Linked DNA regions of Homo sapiens: regions 1 and 3 are each linked to region 2. Evidence: fine-mapped expression QTL. A gene starts in region 2. Each other region holds a variant in brackets. All regions are shown on one strand. Distances are from middle to middle. Region 1 has its middle 9.2 kb from the start of CLPB. Region 2 holds the start of INPPL1 (inositol polyphosphate phosphatase like 1). Region 3 overlaps NUMA1 (nuclear mitotic apparatus protein 1).

Region 1 (4,240 bases), 220 kb after region 2:
AGACAGGGTTTCACCATGTTGGACAGGTTGGTCTCGAACTTCTGACCTCAGGTGATCCACCCATCTTGGCCTCCCACAGTGCTGGGATTACAGGCATAAGCCACCATGCCCACCAGGCAAAGGTAGTTTTTCAAGCTGCCTTACACTGTTGGTTGAAATCATTTCCTAGCAGCTGTGGGACTGAGGCTGTATTGCTAGCCAGCAGCAGCTGAGAACCTCTCAGCTCCTGGAAAAAACTCTTGGGTCTTTGCCATGTAACCACTTCCTTAGATTCTCTCATACTTGCAAGCAAGCTTCTCTGACTTCAGGAAGGGCCTGGTTATTTTAAAGGGCTCACCTGATTAGATCAGGCCCACCCAGATAATCTCTCTTTTGATAAGTCAAAGTGAACCGATAAGTAATGTTATCACAGGAGTGATATCCCATCACATTCACAGGTTCTGCCTGTACTCAAGAGTGTATACAAGGTATGTACATTCAGCGGTGGAAACCTTAGGGATCATCTTAGAATTCTGCCTGTCACAGTACTCTGCAAAAGTGTCAAGGTCACGAAAGATAAGGAAAGACTGAGAAGCTGTTACAGACTGGGGATTGAGAAGAAATAAATACTAAATGCACTGTGTAATCATGGATAGGACCAGGGAACAGAAAAGGGACATTAGTGGGAAAATTGATGAATTTCAAATAAATTCTAAGGTTTAGTTAATGATATTGTATAAATGTTAATTTCCTGTTCTTGATCATTGTATTATGGTTATATAAGATGTTCACATTGGGGAAGTGGAGTGGAGGATATAAGAGAACTCTTTGGGCTGTGCATGGCGGCTCATGCCTATAATCCCAGCACTTTGGGAGGCCGAGGCCGGCGGATCACAAGGTCAGGAGATGGAGACCATCCTGGCTAACACAGTGAAACCCCCTCTCTACTAAAAAATACAAAAAATTAGCCGGGCATGGTGGTGGGCGCCTGTAGTCCCAGCTACTCGGGAGACTGAGGCAAGAGAATTGCTTGAACTGGGAGGCGGAGGTTGCAGTGAGCCGAGATCGTGCCACTATACTCCAGCCTGGGCGACAGAGCAAGACTCCGTCTCAAAAAAAAAAAAAAAGAATTCACTTTCTGCTGATCCTGCTGCATATTGCCATAGCACTGTCTTCAGGTCCACTCTTCTACAATTCTTCTTTGGAATAACTAAGACAAAATGATTTATTATTAATAATAACAGGAAGTTTTATTAAGTATTTTCTATGTTCCAGCCACTGTGCTGAGTAAGTGAACCACATCAATTATCTATATAAATGATCAGGTAAGTTTCTCCCAGGTTTGGTAGGCATGTTTTCCATGTGATCTCTCCAGTCAATGAAGGCACAATCCCTCAGTGATAGCAGGTAAACCACATCTGAGAAATCTTGGAGAAACTCATCTAAGCATTTTTCAAAAATAGAAGTTAACAGCTACTGAATATTGAGCATGTATTCTGAGTCTGGCATTGTGCTAATAAGCACTTTACATGAATAAACTCAATCCCTACATTAACACAAGTTAGAGACTAGTAGCATCACAGGCTTATGTTGAGTCAGAGCCCAAAGTCTTAGCCATTACACAACTTTTCCTAACGAAGGAACTTGTGTGTGTGTGTGTGTGTATGTGTGTGTGTAAAGTCTTCTGCATTACTTTTTCTCAAAAATATTGAACACTTTCCTTATTCACAAATAGAAGATAGTAAATACAATTTAATCTTTTCCTGATAAAGGTTATTGCTATCCTGATTTTTGTATCACATGATAGATGTAGAACTCTTAAGCACTAACTCAAATCATGCTCTGAAAATAAACAAATCTCTTAATTGCCTCCTTTTCTTGT[C/T]ATCTGTTTCTTTCCCATAGAATCAAAGTGTAGCATGTGGCCTCTGGGCAGGGTAATATGTCCTCTTATTACATTAAAGATGAGAATTTAGTTTGTGATAAATCTGGCACTTTACGTAAGTGGGGAAAATATTAATTATTTAATAAACAGTGTTGGGACAACTAGGTGGCCAACTGGGGAAAAAATAAATTAGATTTGTCTCACCCCTTCACCAAAATAAATGCCAACTGAATCAAAAGACTTAAATGTGAAAAAGAAACAATAAACATGCCAGTAAGAAAACATGAAGTGATTTTTCAAAATAACTTTGGAGTAGGGAAGCTTTCTAAGCACGACACAAAATTCAGACCCACAATAGCAAAGACTGATGTATTTGACTCTACAAGTAATTATTCTGATTGAAAAATACCATGAACAGTAAAAAATGTAAATGATAATCTCGGAAGAATATATTCACACCACAATGATGGAGGGTTAAGTAATACAGAGAACTCTTATAAAATATGAAAAAGACCTACAATGCAGTAAGTGAACAAAGACAATGCCTCTGCTAGCTTATGCAGTGCCTCTGGGAAAAGTAAAGAAAGCAGCCATCTCAGGATGAATTAGAAAAAGGGGCCCCTAAGCAGTGTACATGTCCCAGGGAGCAGCATGCTGCCAGACTGCAGCCTCCACTTCTCCTATTGGTTTAGGCTTTTGAGTGGCACACGAACTGCATATCCAAACACAGCTGCCTGGGCAAAGGACTTGACCAAAGACCTCATGAGAAATGAAATATAAATCATATTTAAATATATGAAAATATGCTCAATACACCCATGACAAGAAACATACAAATTAAAACTATAGTGATCCATATCTTACAGCATATACAAAAATGAACTCAAAATGAATTATTGTCCTAAATGTAAAACCTAAGACTCCAAAATTTCTTGAAGAAAACATAGGAGAAAATCTTTGTGGCTTTGGATAAAGCAGATTTCTTAGATACAACATGAAAAACACAATGCATAAAAGAAAAAAAAAAAGATCAATTTGACTTCATCAACATTAGGAACTTTTGCTCCTCAAAAGCCACTGTTAAGAGAATGGATAAGCTGCAGAGTGGAGAAAATATTTGTAATTATACATCCAGTAAGGAACTTACATCAGAATATGAAAAGAATTCTCAAAACTCAATGATAAGAAAACCACCCAATTTTTATGTTGGAAAAAAGATTTGGAGAGATAACTTCTTACTGTCAAATAAGAACGCTAAAAAACACCCTCAATATCATTGCTCTTTAGAGAAATAAAAATTAAAACCATGAATTATATATGTATTAAAATGTCTAAGATTAAAAAGACTGGCCGTACCACATGACGATGTGGAGCAACTGGAACTCTCATATACTGCTGAAGGGGAATGTGAAATGGTACAACCACTTTTGAAAACAATTTGGCAGTTTCTTTAGAGGTTAAACAAGCATGTACCATATGATCCAGTCATTCCAACTTTTAGATTTATTATCCAAGGAAAACAAAAACATATGCTCACACAAAGACTTGTACATGAATGTTCATAGCAACTTTGTAAAAGCTACAAACTAAAAATATTACCAAAACACCAGGGGTTTGGTCTAGGTCCAGGGAGGGTCCTGCTTCTTCCATATACTAGAGGTTTGGTCTAGGTCAAGGGTTTGGTCTAGGTCAGGGGTGTGGCTTAGGTCAGGCCTGCTGCTCCCCTTTCTTGGTGCTACAGCCTAGAAGATGGGAGCTCAGTCTCAAATCCATCTCCCTGACTGATTAAAACTAGGGGTTTATACATCAGGGAAGAAATGTAACAATGTGTAAAAAAACAGGAACTAGGGAGGGGCAAAGGAAGCAATCATAATGAATGAGGGGTTGTCATCTGGTGCTGTGATCCATTGAGTTTCAGTTCTTTGATACTTTTTCCAGAGGCCTGAAGGTTGTTTCCTGAGGAAGGAACTCAGATAAAACAAATATAAATTTCAAGCTTTAAGATCAGGAGGGTCAATTTCTATGTTTATCAAAAAGAACCATCTTTGGGACTATTGGATTGGTTTCAAAAACAACCTAAACTTCTATCAATACATAAAAGGATAAACAAATTGTGGTATATCCATACAATGGAGTGTGACTCAGCAATAAAAAGGAACTATTGATATGCACAATGACATGGATGAACCTCAAGATATTAATGCTGAATGAAGCAAGTCAGTTCTACAAATAAATAAGCAAGCAAGCAAACACAGACTACACATTGTATTATCCAATTTTATAAGATTCTAGAAAATAAAAGCAAATACTGTATATAGTAACATAAAGCAGAACAGTGATTGCATGGGGATGATAGGATTACAGGGGTAGTGGGAGGAA
Region 2 (4,240 bases):
GATTGTAGGATGAGTTATTGGGTTCTGGAGGCACTGTTGGGTGGGTGGGTGGATCTCTTAGTTATTATATTTATCTAGTGTGGAAGGCCCCACAGAGCCCCTTCCACGTCCCAGGCTCTGCTCCAGCTGGGTTAAGTCAATGCATATTTGAAATAGAGGAAGGAGCTCGAGGGACTGACCCGGGCTCCGTCAACAGGTTCAACGTAGCAAAGTGAAAGTTCTCTCCCAGGTTAAAGGGATTCTCCCACGGCGGCCCAGGAGATGGTGGCGGCGGGCGCCCGGCTGGAGGCCTGCGCCTTTAAGGAGCCAGGGGGCGGAGGGGCGGGGCAGGAAGACGACTCCCCGGAGACGCCGCCACCGGCTAGGTCTTTTTTTGGGAGGGGGCGGGCCAGACCCTTTTATGGGCTCCGCCCCCTTTGCGGCTGCCGCGTCCCCCTTCCGCCCTCGGCTGGAGGGGAGGAAGCTAGGGGGGCGTTGCAGCGGACCCCGTCTGGGAGCTCCCCGCTGGGCGTCCGGCCCGCGGAGGCGCGAGTTTGCTGACTCGGAGGGAGCCGCTGGGGCGGGGGCGAGTGCTAATAATACCCGTTCGTTCCGCAGCCGCGCTTTACAGTTTACACAGCTGTCACCTTCGTTTCTCCTTAATTAATAATAAAAATAGCCGCCGTTCGGGAGCGCGGGCTGGGCGCCAGGCCCGGTGCCGAGCGCGGTACGAGCTCGGCCCCCAGAGCCGGCCCTCGCCACAGGATCCCCATTTTCCAGAGCGGGAAGCCGACGCTCAACCCCGCGCCGCGACTTGCCCGAGGTCACCCAGTGGGCCAGCGGCTCCGGGACCGAGGCGCGGGGCGGGGTGAGGCGAGGCGCGGTGCTGCCCCCGGCTCCCCGGGGCGGCGCGGGGCGGGGCGGGCGGCGCGGAGGGCGGGGGCGCGCGCGGATGGCCATCTTAAGTGGCCGCCTGGAGCCCAGGGCCGCTGTCCGGGGAAGGGGGCGCCGGAGCAGCCCGGGAGGTGGGGGTCTGCGTGCGGCGGCCGGGATCCCGGGAGGGAACTTTCTACTAGACGGGCCAGGGATCCTCCTGGCTTCGGACTGCTGAACCCCCTCAAGGCCCGGCCTGCGGGTGTGGGGGGTGGTGCTGGGGAACTTGGCCGAGAGGGGGAAGGGCTCTGCGGGGCTGGGAGGGGCTGCGTGAGAGGCTCGAGAACGTCGCACCTCGTCTGGGCCCCCCGCCAGAGTAAGAATCTTCAGAAGCCTGGTTAGCCAGGGAATCTCCCCGCAGGCTTTGCCGGGGGACGGTTCCCGTGGAGTTGGGGGTTCAGATCTAAGAGGGGGCTGCATTTCGCAGGAGTTGGGGGCCCCGCCCGCTTGGGTGGAGGGAAGAGGATGGGTAGGGGGTGGTCCTGGATCCTTCGCAGGTTTGGGGAACTCGATGCAGCCAAGCTGTAAGGGGGACGAGAGGAAGAGCCATGGAGTGGAATCAGACCTTTATGGGGCTTAGGGGTCATATCATTGGGAGAACTGAGAAGCGCTGAATTCTCCAGGGGGTGCCTGGATCCCGAAGTGTCGGGGCCAGGATGGGGGGACTCGGATTTCGATGGGGATTTGGGGACTGGATCTCCTCGGGTGAATGATGGGGGCAGGATCATTGTGGGGTCTGGGAGGTCCCGGGCCCTTCGGGAAGGTGGGGGCACCGTCCCCGCAGGAGGAGCTGGGGGCAGGGGCGGCCCGGGCTGCGGGCCGAGCGGAGGGGGAGGGGGCGGCAGCCGGCCCTGCGCTCCGCTCCTGCCCCTCCCCCGCCGCCTCTGAACAAACTTTTCTTTCTCTTCAAGTTGAGGCCGGCGCTGCAGGCAGCGGCGGCTGCGCGGTGAACGAGGCGGCCTGCGCGGCGGAGTGCTGAGTCCCGATCCCCGGCTCTGTCCGGCCCACGGATCCTCAAGCCCGGGCCCCGGGCCCGGCCCCAGCCTCAGCCCTGAGCGTCTCGGGGCGGATGGCGCGGGGCGGCGGGGGCGGGCGGTGCTGAGCCCTGCGCGGGCCATGGCCTCGGCCTGCGGGGCGCCGGGCCCGGGGGGCGCCCTGGGCAGCCAGGCCCCCTCCTGGTACCACCGCGACCTGAGCCGGGCGGCCGCGGAGGAGCTGCTGGCCCGGGCGGGCCGCGATGGCAGCTTCCTGGTCCGAGACAGCGAGAGCGTGGCGGGGGCCTTCGCGCTCTGCGTCCTGTGAGTGGGGCGGGGGCTCCTTGCGGGCTGGCGTGGACCGGGAGCGCGGGCACGGCCGGGTGTGGAAAGGGCCCGGGTGAGGGTTTCTGGGGCGGTGGGACGCCAGACCCGCCTCCACCCCCCAGAGTGGGAGCCTTGGCTTTCTCCTGGGTCTGAGGAGGGACGCAGGGGCACTTCCTGCTGTGTGTCTGGGGGCACTTTCAGGAGCCTTGAGGGTAGAGAATATGGGGTTCTGTGGCCCAGTGTGACTGTGATGACGAAAAATTCGGGCATTCCCCGGCAGACCCCTTCAGGCATCCTCCAGGTAGAAGGGAGCAGGGGAGAGGATGTGCATTCCACGTTGTGTGCAGTCCCGTTTGGATAGGGACTGAGTGGTGAGCAGGAGAGGGAGTCGGGGCAGAGGGACTGACGGGGTGTGTGGGGATGCCTGGCAGCTTCCTTAGGGCCCCTTTCGGTGCTTTGGGGTTCTGCCTGGCCGTGTATGGGTGGTGGGGGCGGTGATGGGTGGTGTAGAGAGGAAGGCTTGGGGAAGCAGAGGCTGAGGCTGTATGGGACCTTGCCATTATTTCTGAACCAATGAGTGAGTGTTTGAGCCCTGGCTCTGGGCTTGAGCCCTGGTTACCTGGCTGCCCTAGCCCTGAGCTATGAGTGCTGAGTGAGAGCAGAGCCAGACTTGGTGCTTCTCTGAGTGGGCCAGGTCCTGTGGCTGTGCCTTTCAGCCCAGTGTGGTTGGTAGTGGTGCTGGGGTGAGTTAGCACTCTTGGTTTTGCAGCCTTCTAGCGGCTTTGTACCTCCTGCCCTGCAGTCTGACATTGAGTTGGCTTCTGTGGGCCCAGTGAGTGGGAATCTGTGGGGGCTGCTTTATTTAGATCAGTTATTTAGATCTTTATTTAGATCTTTCTTAGCTCTGTGAACCCCCTCCCAAACTCCTGTCCCACTGTACCTTCCTTACCCCTTTGTTCTCCTGACATCTTTGGTCGGGGCGCACATTAGCCTAGACCAGGGGAGACCTTTTTTTTTTTTTTTTTTTTTGAGAAAGAGTCTCGCTCTGTTGCCCAGGCTGGAGTGCAGTAGTGCAATCTCGGCTCACTGCAACCTCCGCCTCCTGGATTCAAGTGATTCTTCTGCCTCTGCCTCGCCAGTAGCTGGGATTACAGGCGCTCGCCACCAAGCCCAGCTAATTTTTGTATTTTTAGTAGAGATGGGGTTTCACCATATTGGCCAGGCTGGTCTTGAACTCCTGACCTCAAGTGATCCACCTGCCCCGGCCTCTCAAAGTGCTAGGATTACAGGTGGAGCCACCTCGCCCAGCTGGGGAGACATTTTTAATTGTCACAACTGGGATGGTGCTATTGACATCTAGTGGGTAGAAGCCGGGGATACTGCTAAACATTCTACAGTGCACAAGAGAGTCCCCCACAACAAAGAACTGTGCAATCCAAAATGTCAGTGGTATGGAGGTTGAAAAACTCTAGCCTAGGCAATTGACCCAACAAGGAAGGGGCCCTATAAGTCTTAGCTTAGGCCTCAAGTCTGAGGCCCAGTAGGGGGAGACTAAGGAGGGACAGACTAGGCAGATGAATATCCCCAAGTCCTGCTTCCCAGCCCCCTCTGAGGCATACCCCCTAATTAGGCTGGGGAGGGAGGCAGGTGCTGGGTCAGCTGTTGAGTGGGAGGGGGACAGCTGGGGCCTGTGTCTGGGTGAGGAACATTATTGTCCCAGGAGGGGGAGAATCCTGGCCTCATTGCCAAGGGAGGCTGTGAATGGGGTGAGGGGTCTGTCTGTGAGTGGGGGCTTCAGGTTTGCCAGCTGACTCTGGCTCTTCCCCGCATCTCAAGAGCCTGGGGGTAAGGATCAGACGTGGGCGATCAGACGTGGGCAATATCTTAGATTTGCCAAATACACACATACTTGCTTACCTGTATACATTCCGGGTGTTCATGGATAACATGCAAGACACGCCCCTGCCCCAGCAGGCACAGGCAATCTGACCAGCAAGCTAGGATACTGGCCCTGGCTTCTGCCATGG
Region 3 (4,240 bases), 190 kb before region 2:
CCCACCCCAGCAATCAGCTTTGCCTTAGAGGCTAGAAAGGGGTATGGTGCGTACTCACATTCTGTCAATGATCTTGATGAAGATGCTGCAGTCCTGGAGCTGCAGCACAGCCTCCACAGGGTCAGCCACGTGTAGACTGTTCACCTGTAAATCAAAGGGAACAGCCTAGTGAGACCGTTAGAAGCAACATGGTTTGCTCCTTTTCCCAGAGGCTTAATGTGAGTGCTTACAGTTGTAGACTATAGGAATACAAGAACTGATGATTCTCAGGTTTTTAATTTCAGGAAGGAGTGCCGTTGCACTCACTCATCCAGTTACAGCCACCTGAAATGCAACCATCAGAGAGCCCTTCCTTTGGCTTCAACTAAATAAAAGCTTAAACTTTCCTAAGATGTTCCAGCACTGGGAGTATTTTGGAAGGATACACCAATAAATTGGTACTACCACTGCTTCTAAAGAGAGGAACTTGACAGCAGGGAGTCTGAGGTGGGAAAAGAAAGGCTCTTACATTATAACTCTCTGTAGCTCTTGAATGTATTATAGCTCTTTGTATTTCTTGAACGTTTACATTATAAGTTTCTGTATCCCTTGGATTTTTATATTATAGTCCTTTGTGGCTCTTGAGTTTTGAAATATCTATTCAAAACTTAAATATTACATATATGCTATACACTCCCACAAACATATAAAATCTTATTAATACATTTTATATTATAGCCCTTTGTGGCTCTTGAGTTTTGAAATATCTATTCAAAACTTAAATATTACATATATGCTATACACTCCCACAAAGATATAAAATCTTATTAATACATTTTTATTCTTTCCACACATAAAGCTTTGGCTGAGGGGAGAAGGGAAAAACAATAGGGGAACAAGATGATTTTTTAAAAAGGGGGTGGAGGGAGCCAAGCGCGGTGGCTCACACCTGTAATCCTAGCACTTTGGGAGGCTGAGGCGGGAAGATCACTTGAGCTCAGGAGTTCAAGACCAACCTGGGCAACATGGTGAAACCCTGTCCTACAAAAAATACAAAAAATTAGCCAGGAGTGGTGGCACATACCTGTAGTCCCAGCTACTTAGAAGGCTGAGGTGGGAGGATCACCTTAGCCCAGGGAGGTCGAGGCTGCAGTGAGCTGGGATTGCATCACTGTACTCTAGCCTGAGTGACAGAGCAAGACCCTGTCTCCAAAGGAAAAAAAAAAAGAAAAGAAAAGAAAAAAAAAGGGGGCGGTGGGGGATGAAAGAATAGGAGCTGGGAATTTCAAAGAAAAACTTCTTAATTCTAATTTAGTTGCCTGTTCCCATTCTTTGGCTTCAGATAGGCATACATTTAAATCAGTTTTTACCACTAGAATATTCACCAGGGGTCACACACATCAGGTACACAGGTTATTCAATAAGTATACATGGTCAACCTCTACAGGAAAACCTCATGAATTCCACAGGCACTACAGTTCAGAAGTAGCCTGGGCTGAAGTTTACGTTTTTATTACTATAGGAAGAAAGGGTTTGCTAAGTTAATTATTCACATATTCAACACTAAGAGGGGAGAGAGACTGAGCCTGCTTTAAGAAACAAGGTATTTTAAAGAACTTCAGCATAGTGGTTATGTGCAGACAACTAGATTCTATTGCTTACAAATGTGTTCTCTATATTTGGGCTGGGAGCCAGTACATACACACTTTGGGCCCAGCTCCTCCACAAACTTGCCAGCAACCTTTGTTACAAACTTTATTTCTCTCTGCACTAGTTTCCTCCCTTGCCAAATGGATGGAATCCCTACTTTATCTACTTCAAAGGACCAGTGTGAGCTCAAATGGGATTATGGATGCAAGAACACATTAAAAAATATAAAGTAGGCCAGGTGCAGTGGCTCACACCTGTAATCCCAGCACTTTGGGAGGCTGAGGTAGGGGGACTGCTTGAGGCTGGGAGTTTAGGACCACCCTGGGCAACATAACAATACCTTGTCTCTACTAAATAAATAAATAAGCAAGCAAGCAAGCTGGACATGGTGACATGTGCCTGTAAGTCCTACCTACATAAGAGGCTGAGGTAGGTGGATCATTTGAGCCCAGGAGCTGGAGAAGTTACAATGAGCTATGATAGTGTCCCTGCACTGTGGCCTGGGCAACAGAGACATCTCAAAAAAAAAAAGAAAAAAGAAAAACTAATAAACATAAAGCACTATTATGGTTAATAAAATTAAAATAATGAAGTAGACATAACATTTGTATTTCTTAATAGTTAAGTTAGCTGCATGCACTATAGAATTAAGAGGATTTTTAAAAATCAATGATTTCTCTACAGACATGATAGTATTTATTTGAGTTAAACACTTTCACATTTAAAAACAACTTTTAGGCCAGGCGCAGTGGCCCATGCCTGTAATC[C/A]CAGCACTTGGGGAGGCTGAGGTGGAAGGACTGCTTGAGGCCAGGAGTTCAAGACCAGCCTGGGCAACATAAGGAGACCCTGGCTCTACAAAATAATAATTTAAAAAAATTTTTAGCTGGGTGAGGTGGCTTGCGCCTGTATGCTCGCGTAGTCCCTGCTACTCGGGAGGCTGACGTGGGAAGATCGCTTGAGCCTGGGAGGTCAAGGCTACAGCGAGCTATGATCACACCACTGCACTCTAGCCTGGCCAACGGATTGAGACCCTGTCTCAAAAAAATAAATAAATAAATAAATACAACATTTAGGCTAGGTGTGGTGGCTCATGCCTGTAATCCCAGTGCTTTGGGAGGACGAGGAGGGAGAATCGCTTGAGGCCAGGAGTTTGAGATCAGCCTAGGCAACATAGCAAGACCCTTTCCCCAAAAAATTAAAAAAAAAAAAAAAAAGAGAGAGAAAGGAAAAATAGCCCAGCATGGTGGTGCATGCCTGTGGTCCTAGCTACTCAGGAGGCTAAGGTGGGAGGCAGAGGATTGCTTGAGTGCAGGAGTTCCAGGCTGCTGTGAGCTATGAAGCTGCAACTGCATTCCAGCCTGGGTCACAGAGCAAGACCCTATCTCAAAAAGCGGAATCTTTTAGATGAATCCCAGTTAAAACAGATTAAAATTTTTTTTAACGTGAAATAAAATATGACTTATTGACGTCTTAAAGAGTTTGCTAATATATTTATAATATATTTTTACTGTCTTTTGAAAAAAGCTCAATCTAATTGGTCAGGACAGGTCATTGTAAGTTTTCTAGGAAGATTCTGAAAACTTCAGGCCAAGATTCCATTTTACCTGCAGAAAATGAAGAGACTGCCAAGGCTAAACCATCTCCTATCAATACCTGCAATCTAGGTAAAACATTCAAGGACTATGGATGCTTGTTCACTAACAAGACTAAAAAATCATACCAATTAGCTGATGTAAAGTCTCCTAAGGAATCTGGATTCATCACATATACCAATTAAGTAATAATCCAGCCACAGTTCCTTTCATGGATATAAAAATATTTTTTCTTCCTGTGAGTTATTTTTGCTCTCAAGTGAGAAATCATTTAAAAGTTGAGGAAGTAGAGAAGTTCCTTCATCTCTAGTCAGGGCATAAAACATGAGAGTGAGGACCAGGCTCACCACATAACTCAAGAGTTGCCTTTAAGGATTGCAAGGTTGCTTAAGGTTGTCAAATCTTAAAATACCCTGTAACAGTTTATTCATTATTAACTGCTGTTTACAGAATAGTTTCAAGCTATAATTTAAGTATTAATAAAATAAACCACTAATTTATTTTTATGTTATAAATTACTGAAAATTCAGAAGACAAAAAACAGAGCTCCCAATAATTCTAGTATTTTAATACAGGTACTTTTAGCATTTTGATGTATTTCTTTCGTTTTTTCTAGGTAATTTTTTTTAAACTGTAGTTGGAATTATCATGTGTGTGTATGTGTATGTTCTATGCCACTCTTCTCACTAACATAACAGATGCATTATTTCATGCTACTACAGTTTCATAAAATTTGCTTTAGCTCCACAACTTTTGTTTAAATTGAAAACATTCTCTATACTATATTTATATATATTTTTAAGAGACAGGCTCTTGCTATGTTATAGGTTGGAGTGCAGCAGCTATTTACAGATGCAATCATGGCTAACTGCAACCTCAAACTCCCGGGCTCAAGCAATTCTCCCATCTCAGCTTCCCAAGTAGCAGGGACTACAGGTGTGCACTACTGATCCCAGCACATATAACTATACTTTAACATTTTCATGCATGTTCTTTGTTTTTTTTTTTTTTTTTTTTTT

The links. PIP is the estimated chance that this variant, and not a neighbour inherited with it, causes the effect.
Region 1: its variant is the best candidate, but not a certain one, in a credible set for the expression of INPPL1 in whole blood (INTERVAL, PIP 0.59).
Region 3: its variant is the best candidate, but not a certain one, in a credible set for the expression of INPPL1 in whole blood (TOPMed, PIP 0.83).

What each region holds. Positions count from the first base shown.
Region 1 is chr11:72,441,624-72,445,863 of GRCh38, forward strand. No RefSeq gene overlaps it. Among named protein-coding and RNA genes, the nearest start is that of CLPB, 9.2 kb to the left of the region's middle. The variant C/T (reference allele first, on the strand shown) is at 1,862.
Region 2 is chr11:72,222,957-72,227,196 of GRCh38, forward strand. It overlaps INPPL1 (inositol polyphosphate phosphatase like 1), which reads left to right and starts at 1,811. Exons shown (of 28, transcript NM_001567.4): 1 at 1,811-2,210. The coding sequence starts at 2,029. RefSeq lists silencers at 297-526, 767-1,166, 1,717-2,076, 2,087-2,296 and an enhancer at 3,702-4,061.
Region 3 is chr11:72,029,147-72,033,386 of GRCh38, forward strand. It overlaps NUMA1 (nuclear mitotic apparatus protein 1), which reads right to left. Exons shown (of 27, transcript NM_006185.4): 4 at 59-144. Among named protein-coding and RNA genes, the nearest start is that of NUMA1-AS1, 17 kb to the left of the region's middle. The variant C/A (reference allele first, on the strand shown) is at 2,397.